Homo sapiens: one gene and its partners. The protein of the gene in region 1 interacts with the protein of each later gene in a pairwise test. Each region holds a gene or a part of one and is shown on either strand. Other genes may lie near its edges.

Evidence for each region.
Region 2: the proteins of SNORC (region 1) and CISD2 interact in binary tests that used the Homo sapiens proteins (3 or more experiments, as listed by UniProt).
Region 3: the proteins of SNORC (region 1) and ZDHHC15 interact in binary tests that used the Homo sapiens proteins (3 or more experiments, as listed by UniProt).
Region 4: the proteins of SNORC (region 1) and TMEM45B interact in binary tests that used the Homo sapiens proteins (3 or more experiments, as listed by UniProt).

The regions. Positions count from the first base shown.
Region 1 is NC_000002.12:232,873,255-232,879,221, reverse strand, and holds the end of SNORC (protein SNORC isoform c precursor), read right to left. Parts: intron 3,768-5,967; exon of another isoform or gene 3,725-3,767; coding exon of another isoform or gene 3,667-3,724; intron 3,629-3,666; exon of another isoform or gene 3,417-3,628; intron 3,391-3,416; exon of another isoform or gene 3,283-3,390; coding exon 3,100-3,282; intron 2,976-3,099; coding exon 2,866-2,975; 3' UTR 522-2,865; downstream 1-521. UniProt on the Homo sapiens protein: Plays a role in the regulation of chondrocyte maturation and postnatal endochondral ossification. May inhibit cell growth stimulation induced by FGF2.
Region 2 is NC_000004.12:102,871,967-102,878,996, reverse strand, and holds part of CISD2 (CDGSH iron-sulfur domain-containing protein 2), read right to left. Parts: intron 1-7,030. UniProt on the Homo sapiens protein: Regulator of autophagy that contributes to antagonize BECN1-mediated cellular autophagy at the endoplasmic reticulum.
Region 3 is NC_000023.11:75,513,022-75,520,051, reverse strand, and holds part of ZDHHC15 (palmitoyltransferase ZDHHC15), read left to right. Parts: intron 1-7,030. UniProt on the Homo sapiens protein: Palmitoyltransferase that catalyzes the addition of palmitate onto various protein substrates.
Region 4 is NC_000011.10:129,818,844-129,825,873, reverse strand, and holds part of TMEM45B (transmembrane protein 45B), read right to left. Parts: intron 1-7,030.

The DNA of each region.
Region 1 (5,967 bases):
CGAGGGGGTGGAAGGGGGTGGGCACACTCCAGGGCCCCCCATGCCCCTGGCCCCCAGGGACTGGAAGAGGCTCCCAACCCAGAGTGTCCCTGTGGGAGGCAGGCAGAAGGTGACAATTGACACGATTTCCTGCACGCGTCCTCCTCTACCTTGGAAGCAGTTAGAATCTACCAGGCACAGATGAGGCCGCCCTTGCCTGACGGAGCTTGATGAGCAGCCCTTGGTCTCCGGTTCCAGGACTGAGAGCCCAGCTGCCTCTGCCCACCCTTCCCCAGGCCTCTGCCAGCCTCTGGCTGCACGGTCAGGCCCTGCCCCATGGCAGGCCTGCCAGAGCTTGGCTGGGGACCCCTCCCGCCTCTGGCTCCCTGATGGGCTGGATGTAACTTGTGTCTTCTAGCCCCTTAAGGAGCCCAGGTGTTTTAAGGAATGAATTGGTCACTGCATCTTGTATCGATTATGGTTCTGAGAAAAGCAAATATCACTTTTGGCTGCATTAAAAGAAGCATCATATATAAAATAAAGAAGATGAAGGTCTACTCTTTATTGCCCTTGTACACAAAGGAAGGGGGTGTTTGGTTCCAGGTAGTGAGAGAGGAGCACCCCTTCAAGGCTGGTCGAGGAGGCATGTCCCAAAGGAAGAGTTCAAGGCGGTTTCCAGAGAGGAAGGAACAGCCAGGGCCTTGCCTCAACATGGGAACGGATTTGGGCCTCCACTTGTAGGACTCCAGAAACAGAAAGGGCTGTTTGACGGAGCTGGGGACGCCCCTCTGCTGCAGTGGAAATGAGGACACAGCTTTGGAAGACCGTAGAGGCCCCGAAGTGTCCATGGTGGGGGGGGCCCTACAGGGGATCTCACCACAGGCATGGGGCTGGGACTTCCTGCACTGCCCAGAAACAGGCCCTGGGCCCTTCACACCTTCAGTTACCCAGAGCGCACCCCCTCCCCTCGCCCCAGCTCCACCTCAGTGTGCTGAGGGGTCCTGTGTGCCCAGGACCACGATCTCTGCCAGGACACAGTTTCCCTGCTCGCCAGAACAGGCCTCTGGTTTAGATCCAGTGGGACTTTGTAGCGTCTTCCCACAGGCCACAGCAGGGTGCTCGGACCTCAGACCCTCTGAGAATCACAGAGATGCACAGGCATGTGACACTGGTTCCACCGGAGAGGGAGGCCCCCTGGTCCCAGTGAGGGGCTGTGATGCACCCGTTGGTGGGGGAGTGCTTGCAGAGTGGGGAAAGGGAAAGAGGGGGCCATCTCTCGTCCCTGGAGGGGAGGGTTGGGAAGGAGTTGGGTGGCCATTGGTCCCCGTGCCTTTTGAGGATGGGAAACAGCATGTTGGGTTGGATCGTCCGCTCTGATGAAGGCTTTGGTTACTCAAGGTTATGTGAGATGAAGTCAGTTAACCAATTAGGAAAATAGGTCAGTTTCATAGCACTCCTTTATAAGCAGAATCATTGAACTCACAGTGTATTTTGGGGAGACTGGTTGAGTGGGAAGCTGTTAACAGACTTGGATGAGGCCTTGACCCTATCCCCCAGTGTGTGAGAGGTGCGCGGGCACCACCTGGGCTCCAGTGTCCAGGAGGAGAAAGTCACGGCAGGAAACAGTGCCATGGGGAGCTCAGGGACACCAAAGGGGCCAAAACAGCTGCTAGAGAAAATGAATTTTTAAAAAAGAGAAGCAGCTTGCCCTCCAGCAACATTCCCACTCAGGAATCTTCAGATACATTAAGCTGTCCCCAAGGGGTCTGCTGGCCTCCAAACTGTCCAACCCTTCCCTCCAAAGGCCCTGGGGACTGGGGTAGGGACCAAGTTCCCACTTCCTGCTGTGCTGAGCAGGTTAAATGATCAAAGGATCAAAGTTTACATCTCTAAATGCTTCCGAGGTGGGGACCCTGGACCAGGCTCCTCACCCTCACTCCGCCCCGACTCTCTGAGGGTGAAGTGAGGTGAGTAGAGCTGGGAAAGCCGTTTTCTCTCCCTGAACAAACCAACCGTGGGCGTGGGGGCTGCCGGCCCCCAGCCAGGCCTGGGGGTGAGAGTAGGAAGCAGGGGCGGGCCGTGTCCGGCGTCGACTCTCGACTCATCCTGCTCCTGAGGCTCCCTGGGCAGAGGGGGGCTTGGGGCTGCTGGTCTGAGCCCGCGGATGGGGCCCTGGCTGCAGGACTCAGAGTCAAGACGTCCCCCAAAACCACGCGGCCTCTGGCTGGGAGAGCCGACGGCCCCTGCCCTCCCCAACCCCGGCCTCAAGGAGCGGCGGGCCCCGGGGTCTCTGTCGGCCTCTCCTGCCCTAGCGCTTACCTCCTCACGGAACGCTCTGAACCCCAGCGGAGCGGGATGGGAGGCAGGCCCCGGGGAGCGCGGCGAGGGCCTCGGCCCGCGCCCAGGCAGAGGAGGCGGCGCCGGGAGAAGGGGCCGCCCGTGGCGTGGCCCTGACCGTGACGGTGCCCCCGGACGGGCTAAGACCGCTGGCCGCACACCCGCTCCGATGCCCTGGCGGCCCCGGCGCACGCGCACCGGGCACGCACATGCGGCGCGCTCCTGAGGCACTCCAGCCGTGGTGCACGGGGACGCCGAGCCGCGCGGCCCTGCGCGCGCTCAGGTGCACGCCACACGCAGGCGGGCTCGGACATGCTGTGCGCTCACGCACGCCCCGGCGCCCCTGCGGGGAATTCGGGCGCGCCTCCGGACCCGCGCGCGTGCACGGCACCCACCCTCGGCCCCGCGCGCACCCCCGCCCTGAGCGCTCGCCTGCGCGCGCTCACGCTCTGGCACACCTGCATGCGCGGACACGCACGCGCGGACATACAGGCGCGTGAGGAGTGCAGCCGAGTCGCGCCGCGGCCGGGCGCGGCCCCTTTATTCGCTTCAGGAGGCAGAAAACTTTCTCAGCGCGACGACCACGAGCGCCAGCACCACGCAGGTGGCCAGCAGGGCGGCGATCACGATGGCCGCGATAGCGCCGGGCCCCAGCGACCCTGCGGAGGACGGAGGACCATGTCACCTGCTAGCCCCCGCCTGGCCGGCCCTTCTCCCCGCGCCCCCCGCCCCCCGCCCCTCCTAATTTCTCCCTCTCCCCTCCCTCCCCCGCCCCGCCCGTACCGCCGCCCTGGTCCAGCCGCTCCTGCGCGGTGCTGTCCTCGGGTCCTGGCGCGACGGTGGGGGCTGGGGGACCGGTGTCCACGGGCTCCCGGCCGGGGCTGGTGCTCTCCACGGGGCCTTCTCCCGACGGCAGCTCGGCCGGCTCGTTCCACAGCGTGGGCACGGGCTCCTGTGGAACATCGTCTGCAAAGCCAAGGAGAGGTGCTGGGGCCCCAGGTGACGGGGCCGACAGGGACGTCACCCCCCACCTCTAGGTTAAGCAAGTTGCCGGTAGCGCTGTGTGAGGGGTCTGGGCTCAGCGCTGCACTAGCCCTCACATTTCCCAGGCTAAGAAGCTGAAGCCAGTGCGTTGCTGCCTCCCATTGGGCAGGGCCGGTGGGTGGGCAGGAGGAGTGTCTGTTCAGTGTAAGGGAGGTGCCCCCCACAAAGCCCTTCTCTGCTTATAGGGTTGGGAGTTGGCAGGATTTGGGGTACCCAGGGACCAGAGAGCAGAAAGGAGACATTCTCAGTCCCACAGAAAGCACAGGCTGAGACGCCTGCATGATAACCCCCGCCCTGTATCCTCACCAGCCAGCCCACCCCAGTTGTCCTCCCCTGACCACCACTCCAACCCTGGGCCATCCATCCCCGGCAACCAGACAGGATGCCCCAGAAACGCTGGAAAGCTCAACATGGGGATGGTAGGTCGGCTCTTGGCCTCTCCAGCCCAGCCAGACCATCTGACATCACAGTGTTAGCAGGGCAGGCCTGCCCATGTCCTAATCTCTCTCTCTCTCTTTTTGAAACAGAGTCTTGCTCTGTGCCCAGGCTGGAGTGAAGTGGTACAATCTCGGCTCACTGCAGCCTCCGCCTCCCGGGTTCAAGCAAGCGATTCTCCTGCCTCAGCCTGCGGAGTAGCTGGGACTACAGGCACCTGCCACTACACCCAGCTAATTTTTGTATTTTTAGTTGAGACGGGGTTTGCCATGTTGGCCAGGCTGATTTTGAACTCCTGACCTCAGGTGATACACCCGTGTCGGCCTCCCAAAGTGCTGCGATTACAGGTGTGAGCCACTGCGGCCGGCCCCATGCTCTAATCTCAACTGGGATAGAGACTGTGATCCAGGGACACTCGACCCTCAAGCCGGTTCCCTGGATGAGCTTGGGGATGTCCCAACACCTCATCTCTTTGACTCCAGCTACTCTGTGGTGTGGGAACTGCTTTTATCCCCATTTCAGAGACAAGAAAGCCAAGGCTTGGGGATAAGGTGCCGTGGTGGTGAGCACAGGTGGGCTGAAGGCCTTGGACAGTTGCAGGAGCGGTTGTGCTGCCCAGAAACAGTGCAGGGAGGCTGCCGTTCTGTGAACAGACCCTGCCGGCCAGCCGGCGACCCTAGGGCACCTTTTGTCCCTGCGGGTTCCATCCCTGAGCGCTGGGGCAAGAGTCAAGCCAGACACTTGCCCTCCTCATAGGTTCACCAGCACCCAGAGAGGCGGATGCTCGAGAAGACACAGAGGTCCTTCCAGGGTTTTCTGGCCAGTTGTGTCCATCTAGGGCAAACCACGCAGAAACATCAGCCAACCCAGACTCAGGGTCAGTCTTAAAGTAAATGGGCCTTCCCAAATGTCAAAGTTAGGAAAAACAAAGAAAGGCCGAAAGGTTCCAGATCAGAGACTAAGGAGACAGCTCAATGTTCCTGGACGGGGAGGGACAGGCCTGTGATCGGAGACTCAGGTCCGTTGGTGAAGTTTGAACAGGGTGTGGCTTAGGACTGCCTCAGTGCTCACTTCCTGGTTTTGATAGCTGACTCTGGTGTGTTAAGAGAATGTCCTTGTTCTTAGGAAGAATTTAGGGGCAAAGGAACATGACTTCTGCAACTTACTCTCAAATGATTTCAGCATTCAGATAGAGGATTCAGCAATGTAGCAAAATGTTGGCAGTTGGCAAGACTAGGTGGATGGACTCCTGGAGTTCATTGGAGTATTTGTGCAACTTTTCTGTAAACTTCACATCTTTCCACAATAAAATGTTAGCAGGTCCCTGGCTTCTGGGCCTCTCTCAAGCCTGGAGAGGTCAGTTGCAAGGCTCAGCTCTGAGACAGCTTGCTGACCTTTCACCTGACCTGCCACATTCCCCAGGGCTGGCCCAAGGCAGAACCCCTTTCCAGAAAAGACCTCTGGCAGGAGGCCCCATGGGTGGAAGGCCCATTGGCCCCCAACTGGGGGAGGCTTCCCTCCCGAGGGGCCCAAGGCTGCACTGTAGCACTGATGTCTCTCTAGCCTCCCGCAAACCTTGAAGACCACCCTGAGAGGAGGGGAAGTGACCCAGCCAGGCCTCCCATGTCGCAGCCAGAAAGGCAGGGGTCTGCAGCCTTGCAGTCCCCATGGAAGGCCCCAGGCCCCTGGCGTGCTGCCTCAGGCTTCTGGGGGCTGGGCAGGTAAAAGGCCTGAGTGCGCCCACCGCCTGGCAGGCACCAGGGTCTAGGCTCACTGACTGCCTGAACATGTCCAAAGAAATGGACAAATGACACACCCAAGACAGACTGGCAGGTAGGCACCTCCCTGCATCTGGAGGCCGCGGCAGGGCTTCTGGGTACCAGGCCCAGCTGAGCCGGGTGGCATCTGCGGGAATCAGCCGAGGAGTGGCAGGCCTCCAGCCCCTGAGAAGGCAGGGCTCAGTACCCAGGCCAGCCCAGCAGGGGTGAGCTGCCACCCTTGACGGTACCCTCTGAGCAGGGCAGTGGGGAGCCCCACTCAGGCCCTGTCCCCATCTGTCCCCCGTGACCCAGCCTGTCTCTGCTGCGCCCACCACCAGACATACCTGCCCTGGCCTCCTCCCACTGTACACAGCCCCCTCCTGTCCAGCCAGGCCATGAAGCTTTCTAATCA
Region 2 (7,030 bases), on another chromosome or scaffold:
GTAAGTTTCCTGAGGCCTCCCTAGTCATGCGTAACTGTGAGTCAATTAAACTTATTTCTTTTATAAATTACCCAGTTTGGGGTAGTATTTTTATTTTATGTTTTTATTTCTTTTATAGCAGTGTGAAAGCTAATACAGTAAATTGCTACAACAGAGAGTTGGGTACTGCTATAAAGATACCTGAAAATGTGGAAGCAATTTTGGAACTGGGTAACTGGCAGAGGTTGGAACACTTTGGAGGGCTCAGAAGACAGTAAGATGTGGGAAAGTCTGGAACTTCCTAGAGACTTATTGAATGGTTTTGACCAAAATGCTGACAGTGATATGGACAATAACATCCAGGCTGACGTGGTCTCAGCTGGAGATGAGGAACTTACTGGGAAATGGAGCAAAGGTCACTCTTGCTATGCTTTAGCAAACAGACTGGTGGCATTTTGCCCCTGCCCAAGAGACTGATGAAACTTGAGAGAGAGATGACCTGAAATCGGAACTTAGGTTTAAAAGGGAAGCAGAGCATAAAAGTTTGGAAAATTTGCAGTCTGATGATGCAACAGAAAAGAAAAACCCAGCTGGGTGCTGGTGGCCCATGCCTGTAATCCTAGCACTTTGGGAGGCTGAGGCGGGCAGATCATGAGGTCAAGACATCGAGACCGTCCTGGCCAACATGGTGAAACCCCGTCTCTACTAAAAATACAAAATTAGCTGGGCATGGTGGTGCACACCTGTAGTTCTACTCGGGAGGCTGAGGCAGGAGAATCACTTGAACCCAGGAGGCGGAGGTTGCAGCAAGCTGAGATTGTGTCACTGCACTCCAGCTTGGGTGACAGTGTGAGACTCTGTCCCCCTCCTTCCCCCCGCCCCCCCAAAAAAAAGAAAAACCCATTTTCTGGGGAGAAATTCAAGCTGGCTGCAGAAATTTGCATAAGTAACAAGGAGCCAAATATTAATTGCCAAGACAATGGGGAAAATGTCTCCAGGACATGTCAGAGGTCTTCACAGCAGGCCCTTCCATCACAGGCCCAGAGGCCTAGAAGGAAAAAATGGTTTTGTGGGCCAGGCCCAGGGCTTTGCTGCTTTGTGCAGTATTGGGACTTGATGCCCTGTGTCCCAGCCATGGCTAAAAGGGGCCAACATACAGCTTGAGCCACTGCTTCAGAGGGAGCAAGCCACAAGCCTTGGTGGCTTCCATGTGGTGTTGGGCCTGTGGGTGCATAGAAGTCTAGAATTGAGGTTTGGGAACTTCACCCTAGATTTCAAAGGATGTATGGAAACACCTGGATGTCCAGGCAGAAGTCTACTGCAGGGGTGGAGCCTTCATGGAGAACCTCTGCTAGGGCAGTGCAAAGGGGAAATGTGGGGTTGGAGCCCTCACACAGAGTCCCCACTGTGTCACTGCCTGGCAGAGCCATGAGAAGGCGGCTACCTGCTCCAGACCCCAGAATGGTATATCTAACAACAGCTTGCACCATGCATCTGGAAAAGCCGCAGGCACTCGATGCCAGCCCTTGAAGGAGCTGCCCAAGGCCATGGGAGCCTACCCCTGGCATCAGTGTTCTCCAGATGTGACATGGGGTCAAGGAGAACATTTTGGAGCTTTATGATTTAATGACTGCCCCACTGGATTTCAGACTTGCATGGGCCCTGTGGCCCTTCTGTTTTGGCCAATTTTGCCCATTTGGAATAGGTGTATTTACCCAGTGCCTGTACTGCCATTGTATCTTAAAAGGAACTAACTTATGTTTTATTTTACTGGCTCATAGGTGGAAGGGACTTGCCTTGTTTCAGATGAGACTCTGTACTGTGGACTTTTGAGTTAATGATGAAATGAATTAAGACTCTGGAGGACTGTTGGGAAGGCATGATTGATTTTGAAATGCAAAATGAATGTGAAATTTGGGAGGAGCCAGGGGTGGAATAATATGGCTTGGCTCTGTGTCCCCACCCAAATCTCACCTCTTATAATCCCCATAATTTCCACATGTTGAGGGAGGAAACTGGTGGGAGGTGATTGGATCATGGGAGTGGTTTTCCCCATGCTGTTCGCATGAGATCTGGTTTTATAAGGGGCTCTTGCCCTTTCACTCCTCACTCTTCTCTCTCCAGCCTCCTTGTGAAGAAGGTGTCTGCGCTCCCTTCTACCATGACCGTAAGTTTCCTAAGGCCTACCTAGCCATGCAGAACTGTGAGTCAACTAAACCTCTTTCCTTTATAAATTACCCATTCTTGGGTATTATCTTTTTTTTTTTTCCAGATGGAGTCTTACTCTGTCACCACGCTGGAGTGCAGTGGCATGATCTTGGCTCACTGCAATCTCCACCTCAGGGGTTCAAGTGATTCTCCTGCCTCAGCCTCCTGAGTAGCTGGGATTACAGGTGTGCATCACCAAACCCAGCTAATTTTTTTGTATTTTTAGTACAGATGGGGTTTCACCATGTTGACCAGGATGGTCTCGATCTCCTGACCTCATGATCTGCCCACCTTGGCCTCTCAAAGTACTGGGATTACAGGCATGAGCCACAGCACCTGGCCTCTTGAGTAGTTACCTTTATAGCAGTGTGAAAACAGACTAATACACCTACTATGTAGAGATACTGTGCTAAATGCAAATACAGTAGCTGTCTTATTTATATCTATGTAACCAGTGCTTAGTAATTTGCACATAACAGGACTTCAGTAAACAACTAATTCAGTTTATCTGTGGTATAAATCCAGATTTTCATATACTTGGAACCAGGTTTCTTTTGTCTGTAAAGCAGGAATAACAACTGTAAGCTCATTTGTTCAACAATATTTACTTAGTACCTACCACACTCCACAAACTGCACTATGTGGGGATACAGGCTAATAGATAAGGTCCCTTCTCTCATAGGGTATATATTTCAGAGGACAGAGACTATAAACAAGTGAACAAATAAACAAGATGATCACAGACTATAGTAACTGTTATAAAGGAAATAAAGGATGACATAAGAGAAAAACTAACCTGGGGCAAAGCAGTAGGGTGGCTGCAATTTTAGGTAAGGGGTCAGGGAAGGTTTCTGAAAAAAGAACCTTTAAGCAGAGACCTAACGAATGAGAAGCCAGGAGCTCAAGCACTTGAGCGCAGAATTTTCAAGGCACAAAGAAAAGTAAAGAGTCTTCTAACTTCATAGGATTGCTGGGAGAAACGAATGAAGTAGGAACCCACTCAGTAAAAACTACAGAACACAATTCAAACTATTAATGCATTCTGCCTTAAAACTATATAGTTAGGTAAATATTTGTCTCCTCCCCAACTAAACAAAAAATCCCTAACTCCCTACCCTTTAACAGAGACTTACATAAACCAAGACCTCAGTAAGTTTTAGCCTAATTGAGTTTGTACTCCAATAAACTGGCATTTGAGATAATTCCTACAAGGTCTGTACTTACTTGTCTTTGTTCATGGCTTATGAATAATGACAGTGTAAGTTAAAATACAGGAAGACTACTTAAAATATTTAAGAAAAAAACTTTCAGCACCTTCTAAAATTGTAATACCTCACTCACATGTATCAGGTGGTGGGACAGGTACTGAAGATACAAAAATTATAAAACACACTCCCTGTTAGAAAGGAGCTTGCCATTTAGTATGGAAGACAGACCTATAAAAGACGATCATAATACTGTGTACTATCAGCAATAATACAGAAGCAACGCAGAGGTACAAGTTATTCACTTTTTACTGGCATGAGCAAAAACTGTACAGGTTTTGATACTTAAATAGGTTTCTGAAAGATGAAGAGTACAGAAGTTCATGGGAATATGGGAGGAGGAGCTTCATTCCATGCAGAGGAAGCTGCATAGGCAAAGGTACGGAGATATGACATGCATTAAGTGTCTGGGAAACTAAGCACCATAGTATTGTTAGAATTTAATGAAAGGGAGCTGTAGAACTGAGCAGGTGCCGTATGATGACAAACTCTGATATTCAACAGGTAAGTAAGAATCTAACCTGTGCATAATAGGAAACCACTGAAATATTTGAATATTAGCCTAACTAGGAAATTGTTCACCTATGAAGTCACTCTGGTATCAGATGGAAGATGGATTAGAGGGCCACAGGAATAGCAGAGAGGGCTAGTGGAAGAAGACAAGGCAAGACAACCTGTTGAAAATCCATGGAAATGGTCTGGAAGAAAATAGTTTGAGATAAAACTAAGGTAGTGGCCATTAAAGCAGAGAAGAGAGAACAAATGTGAGCAGTAGTCTCTACTAGGATTCCCTAAACTGCAGAGAACAATGTGTTCGTGCTTGCATTTTCGTTTTCTTTTTTAGCTTAAAACAACAGAAACGTATTCACTCACAGTTCTAGTGGCGAGAAGTCCAAAATCAAGGTGTCAGCATGGTTGATTCTTTCTGGAGGATCTGAGGGAGAAGCTGTGGTGTCCCTTAGCTTGTAGGTCTATCACCCCAATCTCTGCCTCCATCTTCACATGGTGTTCTCCCTTTGTGTGTGCCCAAATTTCCTTTTTAAAATATTTTAATATAATTTCGACTTTTATTTTAGGTTGAGGAGGTAAATGTGCAGGTTTGTCATATGGGTATATTGTGTGATGCTGAGGTTTGGGATATGGCTGATCCTCCCACCTAGGTAGTGAGGATAGTACCCAATAGTCTTCAACCCTTGACCTCCTGCCTCCCTCCCCTTTAGCAGTTCCCAGTGTCTACTGTTGCCATCTTCATGTCCATGAATACACAATGTTTAGCTCCCAGTTGTAAGAATATGTGTTATTTGGTTTTCTGTTTCTGTGTTAATCTCCTTAGGATAATGGTCTCCAGCTGCATCCATATTGCTGCAAAGGATAAGATTTTGTTCATTTTTCTGTTTTGCCAATTTTTTTTTTTTTTTGAAGACAGAGTCTTACTCTGTTGCCCAGGCTGGAGTGCAGTGGCACGATCTCAGCTTACTGTGACCTCTGCCTCCTGGGTTCAAGCGATTCTCCTGCCTTGGCCTCCTGAGTAGCTGAGAATACAAGTGTGCACTACCACACCCGGCTAATTTTTGCATTTTTAGTAGAGACGGGGTTTCACCATGTTGGCCAGGCTAGTTTCGTACTCCCAACCTCAAGTGATCTGCCTGCCTCAGCCTTCCAAAGCGGTGGGATTAAAGGCATGAGCCACACCGTACCTGGCCTGTTTTGCCAATTTTTAAATGTGAGTTGTTCATCTTCTTATTGAGCTCAATACTGAGCAAGGACCTAATATACATATTGACTTTTACATCCCTTTTTTTTTTTTTTTTTTTTTGAGACGGTTTCGCTCTGCTGCCTAGGCTGGAATGTAGTGCCACGACTCAAGCAATTCTCTTGCCTCAGCCTTCCACGTATCCCACTATTAAGATAAATAACAGGACCAAAAAGGAAGAATGAAAGAACCAGCACCATCAGAGAAACAAAATCTAGGCCACTCACAGTGCCTCACACCTATAATTTCAGCACTTTGGGAGGCTGAGGTGAGTGGATAGCTTAAGCTCAGGAGCTCAAGACCAGCCTGGGCAACATGGCAAAACCCCGTCTCTAAAATAAGATACAAAAAAATGAGCCAGGTGTGGTAGCGTGCACCTGTAGTACCAGCTACTCAAGAGGTTGAGGTGGGAGGATGGCTTGAGCTTGTGAAGTCAAGGCTGCAATGAGTGGGTAGAGATCATGCCACCTGCACTCCAGCCTGGGCAACAGAGTGAAACCCTTTCTCACAAAAGAAAACCAAAATCTAGTCAGAAAAGAAAATTTCAAAGCAACTTGAATAGCTGATTTGGTCAGGCTTTGTGTCCCCACTGAAATCTCATCTTGAATTATAATCCCCATAATCTCGTGCCAAGGGAAAGACCAGGTGGAGGTAATTGGATTATGGGTGTGGTATCCCCCATGCTGTTCTGGTGATAGTGAGTGAGTTCTCATGATATCTGATGGTTTTATAAGGGGCTCTTCCTCCTTTGCTCGGCACTACTTCCTGCCATGATGTGAAGAAGGTGCCTTGTTTCCCCTTCGCCTTCCGCCATGATTGTACGTTTCCTAAGGCCTCCCCAGCCATGCTGAACTGTGAGTGGATTAAACCTCTTTCCTTTATAAATTACCCAGTCTTGCGTAGTTCTTTATAGCAGTATGAAAACGGAATAATACGGTAGCTACCAATTTTAGCATAAATTTTCTGAAAGTTTAGACATTGTCAAAATGAAGTATCTTCTTTGGGAAACAAAATTAGGTTTAACCTTTTATTATATATAGTGACACAGGCTAGCTATGACACCTATTCCTTATGACATATAAATACTATTATTAAAACATTTTTTAATAATAGCTAAAAATGACATAAAATGACATAAAAATGACATAGACAAACTCCGATCTTAATGAGGAATTACATTCCACAGAACTAGAACAGAATTTTTCCATTTCAAATTTTCAAACATCTACATATAATATAGCCATATCATCTTATGATACCATAAAAATAATACTGGCAGCTTGGTTGCTAGTTATTTTATAACATATTTTCTCATTTATCATATGTAGCTAAACACAGAAATTATTTCTATTTCTTAACTGTAGAAAAGATAAAATATTTTCAATGCATGAGTTTACTATTACCACTTAAAACCTAAGGTAGGGCTGGGCGCAGTGGCTCACACCTGTAATCCCAGCACTTTGGGCGGCCGAGGCAGACGGATTACCTGAGGTCAGGAGTTCAAGACCAGACTGGCCAACATGGTGAAACTCCGTCTCTACTAAAAATACAAAAAATTAGCCAGGCATGGTGGCACATGCCTGTAGTCCCGGCTACTTAGGAGGCTGAGGCATAAGCATCGCTTGAACCCAGGAGGCAGAGGTTGCAGTGAGCCGACACTGCACTCCAGTGTGGGCAAAAGAGACTCCCTCTCAAAAAACAAAACAAAACAAAAACCTAAGTTAAACATAAATTAGATAATCACAGTAATTTATCTTGAACGCCTCACTCTTGAAAATGTGACATAAACAAAGATAGTTAAGTTGTTTCTGATAGGTGAGAACTG
Region 3 (7,030 bases), on another chromosome or scaffold:
ACTTAAAACCCAGGCAGTATGTTGCCACAGTCTCCTCTAAACTAATGCAGAGGTAAAAACTTTGTGACATACAAGCCAGATGTAGCCTTCAGATATATTTTGCCTGGCCTGCACAGTGTTTTCTTAACATTTTGCATCAGTTCCCATTATTTAAAAGTCAGGAGAATAAGGCAGCTTTGACTTTCAACTCTGGCTGAACCAGTCCCTCCTGCCATCATCAGTTTAACAATCTTGTAACAAATTAGCAACCTGGGTTTTGGAAAGGTTAAATCAAATTTTCCTAAGGCCACACATTTAGTAATAGTGAAGAGTTGGAAATCCAGGCTGCCTGATACCAAGGCCATACCTTTTCCAACACAAATAAATTAACAAATTTGCATTTCAATATGTCTCAAAAAGTAACATTAAGGACCTAACTTCTTTCCAGGGATAAAACCTGATGTCTTTCTCCCTAACGTTACATTAGAGCTGAAACCAAAAGAGATGTTTTTGTCCTTTAATTCTTAGAGTTTGAATTCTGCCATTTACTAGCCTGGAGACCTGGGGCAAGTAACTTCACTCTCTCAACCTCAGTTGTCTCACATGTACCTTGCTTCTACAGTTGTTCATCCATATGACAAATGGTTGCTTAGCACTCAGTATATGCCAGGTATTACTGCTGTGAGGCTCAAATAACATGATGCCTGAAAAGCATGCATCACAGTTCACAACACATTATAAGAGCTCATTAGATAGTAACTTGTGATTAGTAAAGAAATAAAGGATTCTTCCTGACCCAGGAAAATAAGAAGCTTAGCTTTTTAGAGAGGAGGGAAAGTAACAGTATCCATTTTATTGGGGTGAAATTTATATAACATAAAATTAACCATTTTTAAGTGTTCGCCTCAGTGCCATTTAGCACTCACAATGTTGTGCAGCCATCACCTCTATGTAGTTCCAAAATGTTTTTGTTATCCCATAAAGAAACCTCATAAGCATTAAGCAGTCACTCCCTGTTCCCTCTTCCCCCAAGTCCTAGCCAATTATTAATCTGCATTCTGTCTCTATGGATTTACCTATTATGGATGTTCCATATAAATAGAATCATAAAATATGTGTTCTTTTGTGTCTGACTTCTTCCAATTAACAAAATGTTTTTGAAATTGGTCCACATTATATTATGTAACAGTAATTTATCCCTTTTAATGGCTGAATAATAGTCTATTGTGTGTGTGTGTGTGTGTGTGTGTGTGTGTGTGTGTGTGTATATATATATATATATATATATATATATATATATATACCAGTTTGTTATCCATTCATCCATTAATGGCCATTTGGGCTATTTCTACCTTTTGTCTCTTCTGAATAGTGCTGTTACAAACATTCATGTATTTGTTTGAATATCTGTCTTCAATTATTTTGAGTATATACACCAGGGAGATGGATGGGGATAATTGGACTGTATGGTAATTCTATGTTTAACTTTCTGAGGAACCTCCAAACTATCTTCCGCAGTGACTGCACCATTTTACATTCCCATCAAGCAGCACAGAAGGGTTCCAATTTGTCCACATTCTCACCAAGACTTGTTATTTTCAGTTTTATTTTTATTATAGCCATCTTACTGGGTGTGAAGGGGTATCTCATTATGGATTTGATTTGTATTTCCATAATGAAAAAAATATTGAGTATCTTTTTATGTACTTGTTTGCCATCCATATATCTTCTTTGGGAAAATGTCTATTCAAGCCATTGTCCATTTTTTAAATGGGATTTTTAAATTGGGTTGTCTTTTTGTTGTTGAATTTTAATATTTTTTGCATGTTCTGAATACTTGATCTTTATCAGATACGTTATTTGCAAACATTTTCCCCCATACTTGATAGTATCATTTTATACACAAAGATTTTTAATTTTAATAAAATTCAATTTATCTATTTTTTCTTTTGTTGCCTATGCTTTTGGTGTCATATTTAAGAATCCATTACCAAATGCAAGAGCATAAAGATTTACCCCTGTGGGATTTTTTTGTTTGGTTGGTTGGTTGGTTGGTTTTGGTTTTTTGTTTGTTTGTTTGTTTTTTGTTTTTTTTTGTTTTTGTTTTTGATACGGGACCTCACTATGTTGCCCAGGCTGATCTCAAACTCCTGGGCTCAAGTGATCCTCCCACCTTAGCCTCTCAAATAGCTGGGGCTACAGGCGTGTGCCCTGTGTTTTCTTATAATAATTTTATACTTTTAGCTCTCACCTTTAGGTATTTTAGCCATTCTGAGTTAATTTTTTATATCTGGCATAAGATACGAGTCCAGCTTTTTTTTAAAATTTTATTATTATTATACTTTAAGTTTTAGGGTACGTGTGCACAACATGCAGGTTTGTTACATATGTATACATGTGCCATGTTGGTGTGCTGCACCCATTAACTCCTCATTTAACCTTAGGTATTTCTCCTAATGCTATCCCTCCCCCCTCCCCCCACCCCACGACAGGCCCCCGTGTGTGATGTTCCCCACCATGTGTCCAAGTGTTCTCATTGTTCAATTCGCACCTATGACTGAGAACATGCAGTGTTTGGTTTTCTGTCCTTGCGATAGTTTGCTGAGAATGATGGTTTCCAGCTTCATCCATGTCCCTACAAAGGACATGAACTCATCCTTTTTTATGGATGCATAGTATTCCATGGTGTATATGTGCCACATTTTCTTAATCCAGTCTATCATTGATGGGCATTTGGGTTGGTTCCAAGTCTTTGCTATTGTGAATAGTGCCGCAATAAACATACTTGTGCATGTGTCTTTATAGTAACATGATTTATAATCCTTTGGGTATATTCCCAGTAATGGGATCTCTGGGTCAATTAGTATTTCTAGTTCTAGATCCTTGAGGAATCACCACACTGTCTGCCACAATGGTTGAACTAGTTTACACTCCCACCAACAGTATAAAAGTGTTCCTATTTCTCCACATCTTCTCCAGCACCTGTTGTTTCCTGACTTTTTAATGATCGCCATTCTAACTGGTGTGAGATGGTATCTCATTGTGGTTTTGATTTGCATTTCTCTGATGGCCAGTGATGATGAGCATTTTTTCATGTATCTTTTGGCTGCATAAATGTCTTCTTTTGAGAAATGTCTGTTCATATCCTTTGCCCACTTTTTGATGGAGTTGTTTGATTTTTTCTTGTAAATTTGTTTGAGTTCTTTGTAGATTCTGGATATTAGCCCTTTGTCAGATGTGTAGATTGTAAAAATTTTCTCCCATTCTGTAGGTTGCCTGTTCACTCTGATGGTAGTTTCTTTTGCTGTGCAGAAGCTCTTTAGTTTAATTAGATCCCATTTGTCTATTTTGGCTTTTCTTGCCATTACTTTTGGTGTTTTAGTCATGAGGTCCTTGCCCATGCCTATGTCCTGAATCGTATTGCCTGGGTTTTCTTGTAGGGTTTTTAAGGTTTTAGGTCTAACATTTAAGTCTTTAATCCATCTTGAATTAATTTTTGTATAAGGTGTAAGGAAGGGATCCAGTTTCAGCTTTCTACATCTGGCTAGCCAGTTTTCCCAGCACCATTTATTAAATAGGGAATCCTTTCCCCATTTCTTGTTTTTGTCAGGTTTGACAAAGAGCAGATGGTTATAGATATGTGGTATTATTTCTGAGGGCTCTGTTCTGTTCCATTGGTCTATATATCTTTTTTGGTACCAGTACTATACTGTTTTGGTTACTGTAGCCTTGTAGTATAGTTTGAAGTCAGGTAGCATGATGCCTCCAGCTTTGTTCTTTTGGCTTAGGATTGTCTTGGCAATGCAGGCTCTTTTTTTGGTTCCACATGAACTTTAAAGTAGCCTTTTCCAATTCTGTGAAGAAAGTCATTGGTAGCTCGATGGGGATGGCATTGAATCTATAAATTACCTTGGGCAGTATGGCCATTTTCATGATATTGATTCTTCCTATCCATGAGCATGGAATATTCTTCCATTTGTTTGTGTCCTCTTTTATTTAATTGAGCAGTGGTTTGTAGTTCTCCTTGAAGAGGTCCTTCACATCCCTTGTAAGTTGGATTCCTAGGTATTTTATTCTCTTTGAAGCAATTGTGAATGGGAGTTCACTCATGATTTGGCTCTCTGTTTGTCTGTTATTGGTGTATACGAATGCTTGTGATTTTTGCACATTGATTTGGTATCCTGAGACTTTGCTGAAGTTGCTTATCAGCTTAAGGAGATTTTGGCCTGAGATGATGGGGTTTTCTAAATATACAATCATATCATCTGCAAACAGGGACAATTTGACTTCCTTTTTTCCTAATTGAATACCCTTTATTTCTTTCTCCTGCCTGATTGCCCTGGCCAGAACTTCCAATATGTTGTTGAATAGGAGTGGTGAGAGAGGGCATCCCTGTCTTGTGCCAGTTTTCAAAGGGAATGCTTCCAGTTTTTGCCCATTCGGTAGGATATTGGCTGTGGGTTTGTCATAAATAGCTCTTACTATTTTGAGATACATTCCATCAATACCTAGTTTATTGAGAGTTTTTAGAATGAAGGGCTGTTGAACTTTTTCAAAGGCCTTTTCTGTGTCTATTAAGATAATCATGTGGTTTTTGTCTTTGGTTCTGTTTATATGATGGACTACGTTTATTGATTTGCATATGTTGAACCAGCCTTGCATCCCAGGGATGAAGCCAACTGGATCTTGGTGGATAAGCTTTTTGATGTGCTTCTGGATTCGGTTTGCCAGTATTTTATTGAGGATTTTGCATCAATGTTCATCAGGGATATTGGTCTAAAATTCTCTCTCTTTTTTTTCTTTGTTGTGTCTCTGCCAGGCTTTGGTATCAGGATGATGTTGGCCTCATAAAATGAGTTAGGGAGGATTCCCTCTTTTACTATTTATTGGAGTAGTTTCAGAAGAAATGGTACCAGCTCCCCTTTGTACCTCTGGTAGAATTCGGGTATGAATCCATCTGGTCCTGGACTTTTTTTGGTTGGTAGACTATTAATTATTGCCTCAATTTCAGAGCCTGTTATTGGTCTATTCAGGAATTCAACTTCTTCCTGATTTAGTCTTGGGATGGTGTATGTGTCCAGGAATTCATCCATTTCTTCTAGATTTTCTAGTTTATTTGCATAGAGATGTTTATAGTATTCTCTGAAGGTAGTTTGTATTTCTGTGGGATCAGTGGTGATATCCCCTTTATCATTTTTTTATTGCGTCTATTTGATTCTTCTCTCTTTTCTTCTTTATTAGTCTTGCTGCTGCCTCACAATTCTATCTCGGACTGCTGTACTAGCAGTGAGCAAGGCTCCATGGGCGTGAGACCCACCGAGCCTTGCATGGGATATAATCTCCTGGTGTTCCATTTGCTAAGACCATTGGAAAAGCACAGTATTAGGGCGGGAGTGTCCCGATTTTCCAGGTGCAATCTGTCATAGTTTCCCATGGCCAGGAAAGGGAATTGCCAGACCCCTTGTGCTTCCTGGGTGAGGTGATGCCCCGCCCCGCTTCGGCTCACACTCCATGGGCTGCACCCACTGTCCAACCAGTCCCAGTGAGATGAACCTCGTACCTCAGCTGGAAATGCAGAAGTCACCTGTCTTCTGTGTTGCTCACGCTGGGAGCTGTAGACTGCAGCTGTTCCTATTCAGCCATCTTGGAATGATCCTGTTGAATACCAGCTTAATTTAATAGTATACAAAACCCAGCCGTTTACAGCTCTGTTGCCCCCTTTATGCTATTATCACAAATTACATCTTTATACATTGTATACTCCTTAACGTAGATTTATCATTGTTGTTTTATGCATTTTTTCCTTTAAATTAGATAGTAAAAAGAGTTAAAAAAAACGTAAAACTCAATATTACTTGCTTTTGTAGCTACCTGTATAGTTTACCAGTGTTCTTATTTTTTTGTATAGCGTGGGTTACAGTGAGTGCCTTTTCAGTTTTTCTAAAGAATGCCCTTTGGCATTTCTTGAAGGGCAATTCTACTAGTGATCAGCTCCCTCAGTTTTTGTTTATCTGAGAATGTCTTGTTTTCGCTTTCATTCTTTGAAGTATAGTGTTGCTGGACATAGAGTTCTGTATATGTGTTGACAGATGTTTTTCTTTTTCTTTCAGCAATTTAAATATCACATTTCACTGCCTTCTAGCCTCTGTGGGTTCTTAAGAGAAATCAGCTGTTAGTCTTATTGTTTTTTTTTTGTTATGTAAAAAGTCAATTTTCCTGCTTTCAAGATTTTCTTTTTGTTTTTTGGCAATTTGACTATAATGTGTCTGATTGTGGATATCTTTTAGTTTATTCTATTTGGAGTTCATTGCACTTCTTGGATGTTTAGATTCATATTTTTTACCAAATGTATGAAGTTTTTTAGCCATCATTTTTTCAAATACTCTTTCTGTTTTTCCTCTCTTTCCTCTCACTTTGGAAGCCCCGTTATGTGTATATTAGTATGTTAGGATATAGGCTGTATATTAGAGTGTAGGCTCTATTATTGTATATAGTAGAGTGTAGGCGGCTGTCCTCACAGCCTCTACTGATCTGGGATGTGGAGGATGGTAGGCAGCCACTTTAAAATGTCACAGTATCCTCTTACTACAAAGCATCAGTTCTTTTCTTCACCAAGTCTTCCTCTCTGGTTATTGTAACAATTTTACTAGATTCCAGAGTTCTGCAAAAGTTTATTCTGACAGTTTTTGCCAGCTCATTAGTTGCTTTTGAGGAGGGATGTAAGTCTGGAGTACTCTTAGTTTTGGTGCCCAATAGTATCCATTCTGAGATTAAAAAATAAAAATAGCTATGATATAATTCTACTTGAAAGGTAGAAATTTTCCGAAGAGACATGAAGTCCTTGCCCACGCCTATGTCCTGAATGGTAATGCCTAGGTTTTCTTCTAGGGTTTTTATGGTTTTAGGTCTAACGTTTAAATCTTTAATCCATCTTGAATTGATTTTGTATAAGGTGTAAGGAAGGGATCCAGTTTCAGCTTTCTACATATGGCTAGCCAGTTTTCCCAGCACCATTTATTAAATAGGGAATCCTTTCCCCATTGCTTGTTTT
Region 4 (7,030 bases), on another chromosome or scaffold:
AAGATCTCTCCAAAGTCATGGAGTCAAATTTCCAAGATGCCAGGCCACTAAGGAACATTTCTTCAAGGCTTGGGCTCTCTGCCTTCTCCACCTCTTGGAAAAAGTGCTCAAGCTTACAGACAGACTCCTTCCTTCCTTCCCTCAGCATCCACTACCAGTGGGCTTGTTCAGCACTGACATTAGTGAGCAGGCAGAGGCTGGGCCTTCCACTTTACTCAACAGTCCTCCTTGCATAAGCCCTTACTTCCGTTTCCTCTTCCCCTTGCAAGAACTCTCACGCACACCCATGGATTAATCACCACTTGCACAATGGTGACTCCCACAACTTCATCTCCAGCTCTGGCCTTGTCTCTAAGTCTCAGACTCATAGATCCAACAACCTGCTGAACAGACAGACATGCACATAAACGTATAGATGTTTCTTAGACACCTCAAGTCAGTATTTCCAAGACTGAACTCACCATCTTCTTTCCCCACCAAATCGGCTTCTCTTCTCATATCCCAAACTTAGTTAATGGCTTAATGTCCAGTCACCCAGAAAGCCAGAATCTTGGGAGTCATTCTGGACTCTCTTCTCCCCTCACCATTGCCCCCAAAGACATCAAAATTCTGCTAAATTCGCTTCCCCAAGTATCCTGGTATTTTCTCTTTCCCTTCTGTGCCTGCAGCAATGATCTCATTTGGTCTCTCATTGTCTTTTTCCTAAACACTGCGAGGCCTCTAGTCCTGCTGTCCATGAATTCTTCTTCCACCCCGCAGCCAGTCATCCACCTTCCGTGTACATCTGACTACACTACTGGAGGATGGAAAATGTTCCATTGGCTAACCAGCAGCCTGTGGAGGGGTCCACGTCCCCTTGCATTGGGTATACCTGAATGTGGCTCCTCTCCAGTGTCACCTCCCAATTCTCCCCACCATGAACCTGACAGTGTCCCCTTTGCTCATGTTGTCCCCTCTAAATTGCACGTCCTTTTCATTCCTCTTACTTGGTTTCCATATTTAGGCCTTATTTCCTCCAGGAAGCCTCTGTGAATCTCCAGGCTGGGCTAAGCGCCTCACCTCTGTGTTTTCAAAGGACCTCATACATACCATGATTTTTTATCACTTACCATGTTATATTAAAATTATATAGTGACATATGTCTTGCCCATTAGTCTACAGAATCTTCAAGAGTGGAGACCTTATCATCTCCATCAAAAACTAGCACAAGCTTGATACATAATAATAGTTCTTAAACTGAACTGAACTGATGCAGCTTAGCCTTCATCTTGAATCAAGAGAACACCATCTCCTAAATCTAGCCATTGGTAAAATTGTTGGTACCGTTACTATTTTCATACAATTCTTAGAGCTAGGTAAGTCCCTTGATTTCTACTACTGTGTCTCACAGACTGGCATATGTGTGAATCCTTTCCCCCCAGATGATATCTGAAATCACAAGACGAACATAATCCTGGAGTATCAATTTCACCTAAAGATTCTGGAAAAATGATTTTCATTTTAAAACAGATACAGACATATTGTGGGGTAGCATATATTTTTTAGTATTAAGAGAGACTGCACTTATGCCAGGCTGTTCTCAGACAAGTCTCCAGGTCCCTGGGAGTTTAGACTCTATTGTTAGTGCTGACGATTGAGAAACAGTAATCTATAGATCACTGTTTTGCACTGTAGTTTAGTTACTGTTCTAGAGCCTCCCATAGAGAAATAAACAGCCCCAGTGAGACCGAAGCAGGAGCTATCTCAGTAATGGCCAGAAGAGAGGGACTTTCATTGTGGGTCTGAGTTAGGTTTGAAAAGATGTCTGTGTGATTGACAGGTAGGTATTCTGAAATGAGCACAACAATGAGCTTTGTATAATGTATAAAATATGCCAGATTGTAGATCAATGTAGGGGAGGAGGCAGAAAAATGACCATTAGAACAGATCAAAGAGAAGCTCTGGATCAAAGTGCAGGCCGATCAAAGACACTGGAAGGAAGGGAAGGGCACTACAGTCAAGGGATGGAACATGAGGAAAAAAATAATCCAAACTGAACTGTGGCTCAGGAGGGACTCGATGCAGGGTGGTTGGTGATAACCTAAGAAATAATTAGATATTTAGTAGGGTGATATGGGGAGTTTTCAATCCAGGAAATTCTACTTAGAGTCCTAGTAGTTAGAGATCTTTCAAGTTTGTTTTCTTATAGCTATTCCATACCATCAGATTTGAGAATGAGGTAGCATCATCCAAGAGGTGGTGACATAAAAAGATTTAACAGAAACAGAGGAAATAGCAAGGGGACAGGTAGGAAGGGCTAGTTTAAAACAGATAATAGGGTCAATTTAAGTCAACTAACATTTATCAAGTACCTGTTATGCATAAGGCACTGTTCTGGGAGATGGAGTTGCAGGGGTGACAAGCCTGGGCCTGTGCTGTCAGGGAGTTTGCAGTCTTTGTTGAAGTCGCCTAAGAAGGAAAAGCTAACAGCAAAAAATCAGGGTCTAATGGGCAGGCTTTCCAAGTGAGAGGCCTTAAGAAGCTAAAGCAGGAACGATTCCTATCAAACGTAGTATCTGTTCCCTTCACGTGATCTAAAACTTTCCCAGGAAAAAAATAAAAAACATGAATCTGCTCCAAGTTTTGATGATCACTGTGGGGCTGCAGAAGGGAAAAATTGCATGGATTTGGAGGGTGACCTTCAAGGACAGAAATTCTGTCCCAAATTCTAGAGATATTAGAAAAATATTTTCCCAGGCTGGGTGTGGTGGCTCATGCCTGTAATCCCAGCACTTTGGGAGGCCGAGGTGGGTGGATCACAAGGTCAGGGGTTCGAGACCAGCCTGACCAACATGGTGAAACCCTGTCTCTACTAAAAATACAAAAATTAGCTGGGCATGGTGGTGGGCGCCTGTAATCCCAGCTACTCAGGAGGCTGAGGTAGGAGAATGGCTTGAACTCGGGAGGCGGAGCTTGCAGTGAGCTGAGATCGCGCCACTGCACTCCAGCCTGGGCCACAGAGTGAGACTCTGTCTCAAAAAAAAAAAAAAAAAGAAAAATGTTTTCCCAATATAATCCATATTTTGCAAATGGTTATCAAAAAGTAAATTAGTTGTACATGTAGTCAAAGAGTTTTCATTCCCTAGTATCTCAGAGCTTTTTCAATAGAAAATAAAACATGGAGAACATCAGCAACTTCAAAGTGCAGGCGGAGTCAAGGACACATTTCCCATTTTGAATCCTAGACCTCCACCTGTCCACCTTACAACAAGAACCTCCGCTATTAAGCAGATGACATAATAAATACATCTAAGTTATTATGTGACTTTTCTCAAACAGGAATAAATGGCTAGAAATGAGATCTTTCTACAGAGAAACCCATTATATGTACTAGAAAGCACTAGAGACAGATGATGATAAGCCATCAAAAAGGCCTTCTCTGCTTAACCACCCTGCAATGAAGCCAGCCAACCTACAAGCCATGCTCACAGATGACGCACACCATCCCCAAACATGTATAAAGCTTCCAACGTGAAAGGCAGGCCAAAAGCAACATTAAACGTCACTTTAAAAATAGACACAGACATTGTAGGTAGCTGAAGAAAACTTCTAAAATGTAGAAAAAGTACTGAGTTAATATGCTTGGAGAAAGAAGAGAAGATGCTGCGTTCATGAAATGAGAACAGGATACTGTAAAAACCATTCAGAAGACCACACCTCTCGCCAATAAAAGCTCCTGAGAATTAAAAATATAATGGTAGAATGTAAACATTTAATAGCATTGTTGGAAGATTTATTAGAACTAAAAAAACATGGGATATTTTTTAAAATAAAAAAGATAAAATTACAAGACAGATCCAAGAGATCCCATTTTCAGATTCAGTCTAAGTAATTTAAGTTTCAGAAAGAAAGAACGAGGAAATTATATAACAGAAGAAAACCACTCAGAACTGAAGAATGTACTTTTTGGATTGAAAAGGCCTAGAAAATACTTAGGACAGTGACGGATACCTCCCTGTATTCCCCCCACCCCGCCAAAAAACCCACCCCAACATTAAATAACAACATCATGAAATATCAGAATATGAACAATAAAGAAAACCCTACAAATGCCCAGAGATTAGAACAAAATACAAGGGATCAGGAATTAGAATGGCATCAGCCTCTCAACAGCACCGTAAGAAAGTAGAATAAAATAGAGCAATGTTTTCAAAATTCGTACGGGAAATGATTTCTGATTAATATCCCATACCCAGCCAAACCAGCAAGCAAGTGTGAAGGAAGAAAAGTGACATCTCAAATGGGCACAAGCTCAAAAAGCAACCGCATCTTATGGGGCCTGAATCTTATACACTTTTGGGAGCCTTCTTTAAGAAAAAGGCGTAAAATTACAAAAACTGTACATAATTGGGTATGAAAGTACATATGTATTCCACAAGAGATGGCCTAGACAGAAAAAAAAAGTGTGTGTGTATTTAGAATGAGAAAATAAATCACAACAGACAGGGACCGTGGAGGTTCTAGACTCTGTCTTTTCAGATGTGCTTGGAAAATTTACCCCAAATGCTTCTTGATGGCGGCCTGGCGTTTCCTCCCCACTCAACAGCTCCATGCAATTAGCAGCACTCAGAGGGCCCCCATGAGTTTCCTTGGCTCCAGGAAATGACTTCTTGGTGATGAGTTCTCAAACAACTAAAGAAAATGTAGCAACTCCTACACCCCATTCCAGGGGGTTGGGGGAAAGACTGGTCAAGAAGGGAAATGTAAAGATCATGGTGTATCATGTGCCTTAGTTGGGAATAATATATACACCAAACATTGACATATCAAAAATTTAGGATATAACCGTACTGGGAACTTAAAAGAAAGGGATGTGAAGGTGAGAGGGAGGGTGGGGGTGTAAAGGAGCGAAACCCTCATCCTTCTTGGTAGGATGTCAATAGATGTCATCCAGAACTGGAAAAGAGAAGAAGAAATGGCCCGTATCTGCATGCTATTTAGAATATGGTAATATCAGAAAAACACAACCCAAAGCATTGAAAGTAATTGCCGCTAGGGTTCTATACTCAGTATAAACTCAATGAAAACCTTCTACAATGAACGACTTCTAAGACTATACATTGATTTATGTTGACCAAAGCAGATAATTAAAAAATAAAGTATACCCTCAAGAGGAGTGAGGCAAAAAGCTAACAGAAATAAAATAAAGTCGCTTTTGCTAAACTACCTGACATTCGGTGTTTCTCAAAATGTATTCCCGCAACCACCTGCCCTCAGATGACCTGGCGTGCCCGTCCATAATGGAGAATTATAGACCCAGCCCAGACCTACATAATCAGCAGTTCTCAGAGTGGTCCTTGCACTCTACCATTTAAAAAAGTTCCCCTGGACCCACTGCATTACCCATTGCTTTTTAGTAAAACAAACAAAAAACCAAAACAAATAACAACCTATTTAGAGACAGGATCTATGACTCATAAAACACACTATGGCAGATGCTGCTAGCTGCCTACCCAATGTTCATTCTCCCCCCGCCTTATTAACAAAATTCCTATTTTGTTGTTATTATTATTTTTTTGAGATGGAGTTTCGCTCTTGTTGTCCAGGCTGGAGTGCAAGTGGCATGATCTCGGCTCACTGCAACCTCTGCCTCCTGGGTTCAAGCGATTCTCCTGCCTCAGCCTCCTGAGTAGCTGGGACTATAGGCGCCTGCTAGCACGCCCGGCTGATTTTTTGTGTTTTTAGTAGAGATGGGGTTTCACCATGTTGGCCAGGCTGGTCTTGAACTCCTGACCTCAGGTGATCCACCCGCCTTGACCTCCCAAAATGCTGGAATTACAGGCGTGAGCCACTGTGTCTGGCCCAAAATTCTTATTTTGATGTATTGGCAACGTGTCTGTCTCAAACACTAGATTCTCTCTGGTTCCGTCACCGTTAACAGTGTGTATGTGATATGGTTCTGGCCAATGACATGTAAGAAGTCTTTTGGGGTGGGCTACCAGAAAAGCTGTTATTATTATTATTTATTATAAAGAAGGACAGGCCAGGCGTGGTGGCTCACATCTGTAATCCCAGCACTTTGGGAGGCCGAGGGGGGCAGATCACAGGGTCAGGAGTTCAAGACCAGCCTGACCAACATGGTGAAACCCCGTCTCTACTAAAAATACAAAAATTAGCTGGGCGTGGTGGTGCACGTCTGTAATCCCAGCTACTTGGAGGCTGAGGCAGGAGAATCACTTGAACCCAGGAAGCGGAGGTTGCAGTGAGCCGAGATTGTGCCACTGAGAGAGACTCTGAGTCAAAAGAAAGAAAGAGATGAGACAGAGAGAGAGAGAGAGAAAAGAAAAGAAGAGAGAAAAGAAAAGAAAAGAAAAGACAAGACAAGACTCTTCTGGAGCATGCCTCTGCCCGTCTTTCTGCTGCAACTTGCGGAAGTGAGTATGAAAGCTCCATGCTAAGGAGGGTGGTGCGGGAAGACACAAGGAGCCTGTCTCAGATGACGTTCATATCGGAACCCCTTTCCCAGCCCCAGCCTTCTCACCTCCAGACTTCTCGTTCTCTGAGAAAAACAAACTCCTTACTTGTTTAAGCCGCTGTAGTAGGGTTTTCTGTTCTTGTAGCTGAATGAACGTCTAATGACATCTCACACTTTTTCAGATGTTTATCTGACATACCACATTTTATGTATGCCTGCTATGGGCACTGTGCTAGGAATAAGACAAGTAAAGCTCTCTTTGTCATGGAACCAGGAGCACAGTTAGAACAGAAGTTAGAACTTTAGCCACTATAATAACGGCTACAGTTATAATAACAGTTAGAACAGAAGGTCCATAGGCATTTGAGGCTGGGATTCAAGGAGGTTATGTTTGCTGTCACAGACCTCAAACCAAAAGAGTACATCAAAATAAGTCACTGGATTTATACATTTGGCAAATTCTCAAGGGACCACATGACAGAAGGAGCAAAAATCTGAACATTGTTTTTAGCTGTAATTCTCCAATGAAGTAGATTTGGGGAAGCAACATGAGGTACTTGCTTTATTTTTCTTAAA